2 separate regions of the Homo sapiens genome follow, and region 2 is reported to be linked to region 1. Evidence: microRNA targets listed by miRTarBase, many of them from high-throughput screens and not tested one by one. Region 1 holds a microRNA gene; the other region holds the end of a gene's coding sequence.

The links. Region 1 holds the annotated microRNA hsa-miR-548ae-5p (AAAAGUAAUUGUGGUUUUUG, at 1,308-1,327, shown strand). A microRNA usually pairs through its seed, bases 2 to 8, with sites in the 3' UTR of a target mRNA and lowers its output. Matches are read on the target gene's strand: a 7mer-m8 pairs with bases 2 to 8, a 7mer-A1 pairs with bases 2 to 7 and ends in A, and an 8mer does both.
Region 2: the mRNA of SLC9A4 is a reported target of hsa-miR-548ae-5p. Seed matches in the 3' UTR shown: 7mer-A1 at 1,564-1,570.

Annotation. Positions count from the first base shown.
Region 1 is chr3:32,503,269-32,507,669 of GRCh38, reverse strand. MIR548AY (microRNA 548ay) reads left to right here and starts at 1,281; the gene lies at 1,281-1,387.
Region 2 is chr2:102,531,947-102,536,347 of GRCh38, forward strand. SLC9A4 (solute carrier family 9 member A4) reads left to right here. Exons shown (of 12, transcript NM_001011552.4): 12 at 384-2,026. The coding sequence ends at 742. Among named protein-coding and RNA genes, the nearest start is that of SLC9A4, 61 kb to the left of the region's middle.

The DNA.
Region 1 (4,401 bases):
CTCCTGCCTGGATTACAGGCATGAGCCCAGCCTATTAATAAATTAGATAAATCTTTGAAGCAGGCTTACTATATGCTTGTATGAAAGTTATCTTTTTAATTTTTTGAAATTTGTACTTTGACATCAATAAGAGTTACTGCCTCCTATATTACCTCTCTGTTATTATTCTCCCTCAATCTCCTTGTTACCCAGACTTGAAATATTGGCACCTGCTCCAGTTCCTTTCTTACTCTCTAAACAAATCAGTCCTCAAATCTCACTGGTTTTACCTCCAAGGTTCTCTTGGTGCCATCCCCATGATTAACGTCAGAGTTTAAGCTTCTATTCCCTCTCTCCTGAACTTTTACAATAGCCCTTACTTGGATCTCTGTAACCACTGCGCTCAAGGCTACTAGAAAAATATCCCCAAGGAAAAGCTCCGATCATTTCACTCCCCTTCCTAAAACTCGTTGGGGGTTCTTCATTACCCAACAATAATGGAAAGGCCCAGTTCCTTAGCTTGATTTTCAAAGCCTTCCAAAATTTGATCTCGAGCTTATATTCCTTAACTACTCTGTCCTTTCCTGCTCCCTTCATTCACTGTGCCTATGCACACTTTCTTTGCCTTCCTTCATACCACCCTACTGCCTGAATACTTTCTGCCCTGTATCTGCATGTCCAAACCGAAGTATAGTTTAACCCCATCTTGAAGCTCCACTGTAGTGATCCTTTAAACTGAAAGTTATTTCTCTCTGCTCCGAATTAGCAACATATTTAATTTGTATCTCTTCTATAACACATATCTCTTTCTATTTTGTAACATAGTTCTTTGTGGACATTACTGTGGTATCATTGTAGGATAGCGTCTATAATCTAACTTTGTATCCACAGTATTGCCTAACTGTGCTAATACCGATAAGAGGGCCAGTGAAAAATTGTTTAGCAGGAACTGCTGAAAAAAATTAAACTCTGAACTGAAAAAGTAGTACTGAGGCAGGATAGGCAGTCAAGGAAGTGCCCATATCCTCAGGACGCAGCAACCATGGTGACCCCAACAGTCAACACAATAAGCCTCAGCATTTGAATTGTGATTGAACTCAGTCGAGCAAAGCTATCTTCAGTAGGAAATTTCTTCTATAGAGAGCATGAGCACTTTGATTTTACCTGTCCTCAAACTGACCTTTTGCTCATTATAATAGCAAAAAACATGCCCTTGGGTGGAGATTTACAATGCTAATGGGACACCTGAGGGAGGAACATGGGTGCACAGCTACTGCACATGTGCAGCCAGAGGACCAACCAGAAGATGCTTACTACTAGGTTGGTGCAAAAGTAATTGTGGTTTTTGCATTTAAAGTAATGGCCAAAACCGCGATTACTCTTGCACGAACCTAACGGTAACACTTCTTCCCACCTCCTTATGAATAATCATGCAAATAATACATGATTAGCAATAACCTCCAGCAATAATCAATGTTGTCTCATCCTTACGAGCAGCCTGCCCTGAATTCTCTCTCTCTCTCAGGGTGTGATGTCTATTTTGTACTTAGCTTTCAAAATTTTTTTTTCTTTTGCAATAAATTATGCTGCATCTCTTTTGCTGTATGTCTCTTGTTTAAATTCTTTTAAACTAAGAAGACAAGAACCAAGGTCTTGCAACAGCCTCCAACACTACCACATTATTTTTTGAATGGCTGAAGTCCCATCAAATTATGTTCCCCAATCGCTCTCTCTTCTTGTGAATGTTTTTCTTTCTTTTTTTAAAAAATTAAATATCTAATTTTAAAGGAGAACAGTGAATATTCTTTAAAACCTAAATTTAGTGTATCTTCCTTTCTTCTTTTTGTCGTATTTTTTTCACCATACGTAAGATTTCTCATTTCAACATAGTGAGTCCCACCATTTGACTATTGCAAGTTGTTTTATTCATTAATGAGGGTGACAGTTTTCTGTGTGAATATGCCCATCAAAAGAGTTTCCTATACAAGTATTTGCTCATGAAGCACTAACATTTTTATTTGGTCTTTCAATTTATGAAGAAAATGTAAGGGATGCCCATTTCTTTACCTGGGTGAAATATTAGTCTCTAAATCCCAGGCACCCCCAAATCAATCAGAGCAAAGAAAATATGGCACGTCTACTGTCTACTACACAATGGCTTTCACTTTTATCACATTATAAAACAGTGTTTCTCTATGTGGATGGATTTCTTCCCAGATTCACATGAAGAGCTTGTTACGAAAGTATATTCCCAAGCCCCATCTACATTCAGAATCTTTGGGGCTAGATCTCCAAGAATCTTCCTTTTTAATTAATCTCACAGATGATTCTTCGCCATGTTGGAGTTTATGAATCACAGGCTAAATTTGTGTCTTCTTCTAAAAATGCAAAGAGAAGCAGAGACCCCTAGAGAATTGCATAAGTGTGCCCTAAACAAACCAAGAGGGTTGACGAAGTCTGTTCATCTTCTCTCTTGTCTCAAAGTATCCTTGTTTCTTTGTAACTTCCTCCCAATACTTTATTTTGAAAATGTTCAAACATACAGAAATGCTGAAATAATTGTACAGTGGACACCCGTATACTTCACCTAAATATTACCATTAATATGTTACTGCAGTTGCTTTATTAGAGATCCTTGTTGTTGTTGTTTTTTTAACAATGATTTTTTTTTTTGAGACGGAGTCTCGGTCTGTCGCCCAGGCTGGAGTGCAATGGTGTGATCTCGGCTCACTGCAAGCTCCGCCTCCCAGGTTCACGCCATTCTCCTGCCTCAGCCTCCCGAGTAGCTGGGACTACAGGCGCCCGCCACCACGCCCGGCTAATTTTTTGTATTTTTAGTAGAGATGGAGTTTCACCGTGTTAGCCAGGATGGTCTTGATTTCCTGACCTCGTGATCCGTCCCCCTCGGCCTCCCAGAGTGTTGGGATTACAGGCGTGAGCTACCGCGACCGGCCTGCTTTTTTTTTTTTTTGAGACGGAGTCTCACTCTGTTGCCCAGACCGGAGTGCCGTAGCGCGATCTCAGCTCACTGCCACCTCCACCTCCCGGGTTTGAGCGATTCTCCTGCCTCAGCCTCCCGAGTAGCTGGGATTACAGGCACACGCCACCACGCCCGGCTAATTTTTGTATTTTTAGTAGAGACGGGGTTTCACCATGTTGGTCAGTCTGGTTTCGAACCCCTGACTTCAGGTGATCCACCTGCCTCGGCCTCCCGAAGTGCTGGAATTACAGGCGTGAGCCACTGCGCCTGGCCTATCACAAATCTTTTATCCATCTCTCTAGTCATCAACTCATCTTAATTTTGGATGAATTTCAAAGGAACTTTTAGACATCAGTAGTGTCTAATTTGGGATGATAGTGACTTGAAGAATAATGGGGCAATGAATCCTTGTAGCCCTGGTGAAAATACAGTGGCCTTCCTTGTTGGACAGAATTGGTGGCATCTTGGCCTTGGGAGGACATTCAGAGTGCATGTAATCAGAGACAGAAGGGTAGTTCTGGCTGGTTGTAGGTGGCCCCTGCAGGGCAGTATCTACTTGTCTCTATTCATTTGAATGGGAGCTTTTGTTTGTTACTGGAAGAAGAAAGGGAGGTTTGGGGCCACGGAGAAGATGTAGCAGCTGATGGCAGCAGAAACCCCTTCTCTCTTCCATGGGTTTTGAGACTCCAATGGAGAGATGAGTTAGAAGCTGACGTTTTCTGGGTTAGCGTTTAGCAGCAAGGTTTCGAGTCAGACTGCTTAGGCCTGCATTCCAGCTGCTCCTGGCTGTTTGACCTTGGATATGATTTCAGCCTCTTGGCCTCAGTTTTCTCATTTGAAAATGAATGTAACCGACTTTATACTGTCGAACCTACTTTATATTGTTGTGAACATCCTGTAACTCAATCAACTTCAGTTGCTAAAATATAATTACATTCCTTGACAAGTTCACACAAAATTAACATATGTGACTGTAGCAGTTGGTGACCAAGAAAGAGAAAAAGGAAATGATTTTGAAAAGTGAGCCTAAATGGAATTTCGGGAGACGCGGGAGGGAGCGATTCTGAAAGTCCTTACAGACAACTCATTGTACTTCAAATGAAATACGAATTCTTCCCTTGGTCTGCAAGGCCTCCACATTATCTGGCCTTTGCCTACATCTCCAACATCTCCTTTCCTCCCGTACTTATTCCTAGCGACACAGGCCTTTGGGCTTCAGATTGAGTCAAACTCATTTGGTCCTCGGGACATTTGCACTTTCGTGAAAGGCTCTCCCCAGAACTTTACAAGCCTGGCTTCTCACACTTTGAGTCTCATTCAATTCAAAGATCATGGTCCTCAGAGAGGCCTTTCCTGACCACTCAGTTTAGTAGTGGCCATTTAAGTAGAGCACCCAATTCTCCATCCTTTTTTCCTTCTCCTTCCTCTTCTCCTCCTCCTCC
Region 2 (4,401 bases), not on the chromosome of region 1:
CAGATGGCTGCACCACATAACCTGTGTGTAGCATTGGCTTTGGACAAGACCAAGCATCTTTGTGTCCCATGGTTTATGTCTATGGCCAACTGATCTGATTCTGTAAAAAGACACTACCTTACTTACCTGGGGAGACTGGCTTGATACAGCATTTTGCATGCATTTCTATTTATTTATGACACTGCACTTATAGCTTCTGTCCTCCCATCTGCTTGGGGCAGTGTCCTTGAGAAGGAAAAATTGTGCTGATAAGAAAGTTGAGTGTAGAGCTGAAACCTCAGGAAGAGCTTTGCTTCACTCTGAGTTCCTGCCATGTGGATATTAAGTCTTAACTCTGATCTTAAGTCTTGTTCTTTCCCCTTCTTGCCATGATGTTTTCCTAGATGATGACAGCAGTGATCCAGGATCCCCATCCATCACGTTCAGCGCATGCTCTCGGATAGGGTCACTTCAGAAGCAAGAGGCACAAGAAATAATACCAATGAAGAGCCTACACAGAGGAAGGAAGGCATTCAGCTTTGGTTATCAAAGAAACACAAGCCAAGAAGAGTACTTGGGTGGAGTAAGGAGGGTGGCCTTAAGACCCAAACCTCTGTTTCATGCAGTGGATGAGGAGGGTGAGTCTGGAGGGGAGAGTGAGGGCAAGGCCTCTTTGGTTGAGGTTCGGTCGAGGTGGACAGCTGACCATGGACACGGCAGGGACCATCACAGGTCCCATAGTCCTTTGCTCCAAAAAAAATAGTGTTATTGTCCACAAGATTGTTTTGGTGTTTCTCAAGAGTCTGTCTTCCTATAACTGTGAAAGGAGGATTTCTGGAATTCAGAAGAGAGCTATTGAGTTTGCTGTGTTGAAGCTATTAAACATGGATCTATAAGCAGCAGGAAGATTTTTTCCAAGGACTGGGAGCAAACTTGCAGGCTCTGCCATGTACTTATTGTGGGGTACCTTTAGATGAATTCCCTGTGAGTGAGAGAAGTTGATCACCCCAGGAATTAGTCACTAAGAATTCCTAAGAACTTTCTATCAAAAGCATTGGATCCAAGCCATATATTGAAATACAAGCGTGATTAATCAGTAATTCACATTGCCGATATGCATATGCAACTTATAATCAAATAGAACTAGAAGAGACTTTGAAGTCACCTGACTCAGCCCCTTGTGTTTACAGACAAGGACATGTAGTCCAAGGTTGCATGGTGAGTTCACAGTCGGATTGTCCTCCCTCCAAACTGAAACTAATTTGATTTTGATTTCATATTCAATATGCAATAATTATGTTCTATCAGAGATAAAATTTGTTATGAATTTGCTTTATTTAATCAGTAGCAATGATAGATGTGATGCATACTATAGGATTAATCTGTGAACAATGGGTTTACGGTCTATTTCATAATTGAAATATTTATTTTAAAAATGAATATTAGAAACAAAACAGCCATAAACAGAGTTTAATAGCAATGATGTTAACAACAAGTATTTATAAGGGGTGCATTTGTAGGGTGTGACATTTTACCCTAGGGTATAAAACTATTTTTCTTTTATTATTATTATTATTATTATTATACTTTAAGTTTTAGGGTACATGTGCACATTGTGCAGGTTAGTTACATATGTATACATGTGCCATGCTGGTGTGCTGCACCCGCTAACTCGTCATCTAGCATTAGGTGTATCTCCCAATGCTATCCCTCCCCCCTCCCCCCACCCCACAACAGTCCCCAGAGTGTGATGTTCCCCTTCCTGTGTCCATGTGATCTCATTGTTCAATTCCCACCTATGAGTGAGAATATGCGGTGTTTGGTTTTTTGTTCTTGGGATAGTTTACTGAGAATGATGATTTCCAATTTCATCCATGTCCCTACAAAGGACATGAACTCATCATTTTTTATGGCTGCATGGTATTCCATGGTGTATATGTGCCACATTTTCTTAATCCAGTCTATCATTGTTGGACATTTGGGTTGGTTCCAAGTCTTTGCTATTGTGAATAATGCCGCAATAAACATACGTGTGCATGTGTCTTTATAGCAGCATGATTTATAGTCCTTTGGGTATATACCTAGTAATGGGATGGCTGGGTCAAATGGTATTTCTAGTTCTAGATCCCTGAGGAACCGCCACACTGACTTCCACAATGGTTGAACTAGTTTACAGTCCCACCAACAGTGTAAAAGTGTTCCTGTTTCTCCACATCCTCTCCAGCACCTGTTGTTTCCTGACTTTTTAATGATTGCCTAAAACCATAAAAACCCTAGAAGAAAACCTAGGCATTACCATTCAGGACTTAGGCATGGGCAAGGACTTCATGTCTAAAATATCAAAAGCAATGGCAATAAAAGACAAAATTGACAAATGGGATCTAATTAAACTAAAGAGCTTCTGCACAGCAAAAGACACTACCATCAGAGTGAACAGGCAGCCTACAAAATGGGAGAAAATTTTCGCAACCTACTCATCTGACAAAGGGCTAATATCCAGAATCTACAATGAACTCAAACAAATTTACAAGAAAAAAACAAACAACCCCATCAACAAGTGGACGAAGGACATGAACAGACACTTCTCAAAAGAAGACATTTATGCAGCCAAAAAACACATGAAAAAATGCTCATCATCACTGGCCATCAGAGAAATGCAAATCAAAACCACAATGAGATACCATCTCACACCAGTTAGAATGGTGATCATTAAAACTATTTTTCGATTTCATTTTCCATCCCCATCTCCCCAAATTTGACCTTGAATCTCAAATTCCAGCTCTTCAATTTTACTAGATCACTTTATCTTTCCTCGCTTTTTGTCTTCTCTTCCAACTTCCCTTTCTTCTTCTGGCCACCAGTAGGTTAACAAACATTTATTGGGCCAAATAACTAACCTACGATATGCAACTAACCAAATACCCTTTTGCCATCACTGGCATCTGTACCATCCTCAGCTGATTTAATCTTATATGTCATTAAAGGCCATGACCAAGGGCATCCTGCTCCCTAGACCAGCCTTTACCTTCTCCCTTGGTGCCCCCACACCCCTTCGGGTATGCTATGTACCTTATCTGTGAATTATGTCTATGCATGCACACATAGGTCTGTTCTGGTGGTCAGTGGGCTGAAGGACAGGGAGGACAGTTTGTTCATTTTAAATTTTATCCATTTATCTGTTGTGTTTTTTATCTCACCCCTTTACCTATTTTGTATTTTTTGGCTTTTTTTCATCTTTTTCTGTTATCGGTTATCATAGTGCCTCACGCATGGTAGATTGTAAATGTTAAACTGACAGTAGCATTTTAGAGCTGTAATGGACATTAGAAAAGGTGCTGTCAGGCATTTTTATTTTGTAGATGATAAAAATGAGATCTTGAGATGGTCTCTGATGCCAACTCAGAGTTTGTTTTTCCTTGAAGGATGCTTGCTTGTCCTCTAGTATAACCCATGGGTGCTAGTTACTGACTAAAGACACGTGTTTTCTCCTGAATGTATCTTTTTTTTAATGACTTGAACTCATTTTCCTGCTGCAGTGGTAGAAATGCCATCAAAGAAGCCCATTTGTCTTTCTCCTTCCGAACCTGAAATATAAAGCTGCTTCTAAATTGTCTAAATATCTTGATTTTAATAAAAATTATGCACTATCAAATAACAGCAATCAGCCTAAAGGGACAGAAGCACACATAAAACTCAGGAATCTTTGGTTTTGTCCTCATTTTTTTTGTTTGTTTGCTTTGTTTTGTTTTTGTTGTTGTTGTTTGTTTGTTTTATGTCACCCAGGCCGGAGTGCAGTGGCATGATCTCTGCTCACTGCAACCCCTGCCTCCCAGGTTCCAGCAATTCTCCTGCCTCAACCTCCCAAGTAGCTGGGACTACAGGTGCATACCACCACACCCGGCTAATTTTGGTATTTTTAGTAGAGACGGGGTTTCACCGTATTGGCCCGGCTCGTCTCCAACTCCTGACCTCAAGTGATCCGCCTACCTTGGCCTCCCAAAGTACTGGGATTAGAGGCGTGAGCCACTGCACCCAGCCAGATTTTGTTCTCTTTGTTTAAAGAAACAAGCAACAAACAACAACAGAAAAAAACTGTGTCCCATGAAAGAAAGGCAGTGGGCCATTATCCTTGAACTATAGATGGAGATATAGCAGCGGAGAGAAGTCATCAGAATTAACCTTTCCAGTGCCATTAAGAAAATGAACTCTTCAGACCTGAAGCGTCCCCACATCCCTTACTGGACTCTATCCATACAACAACAGAAATCCATTGCAAAGGGCCCTTCCCGGAGCAGCCAGCAAGGTCTAAGAATCAGTGGACTCTATCTAAACTATCCTGTTTTACTCTGAGATGCTGGTGCCATTAAGGTGAGGCGTGGTATGACTTAGTAGAGTAGAACTTTACCTTTTAGTTGGTAGAGG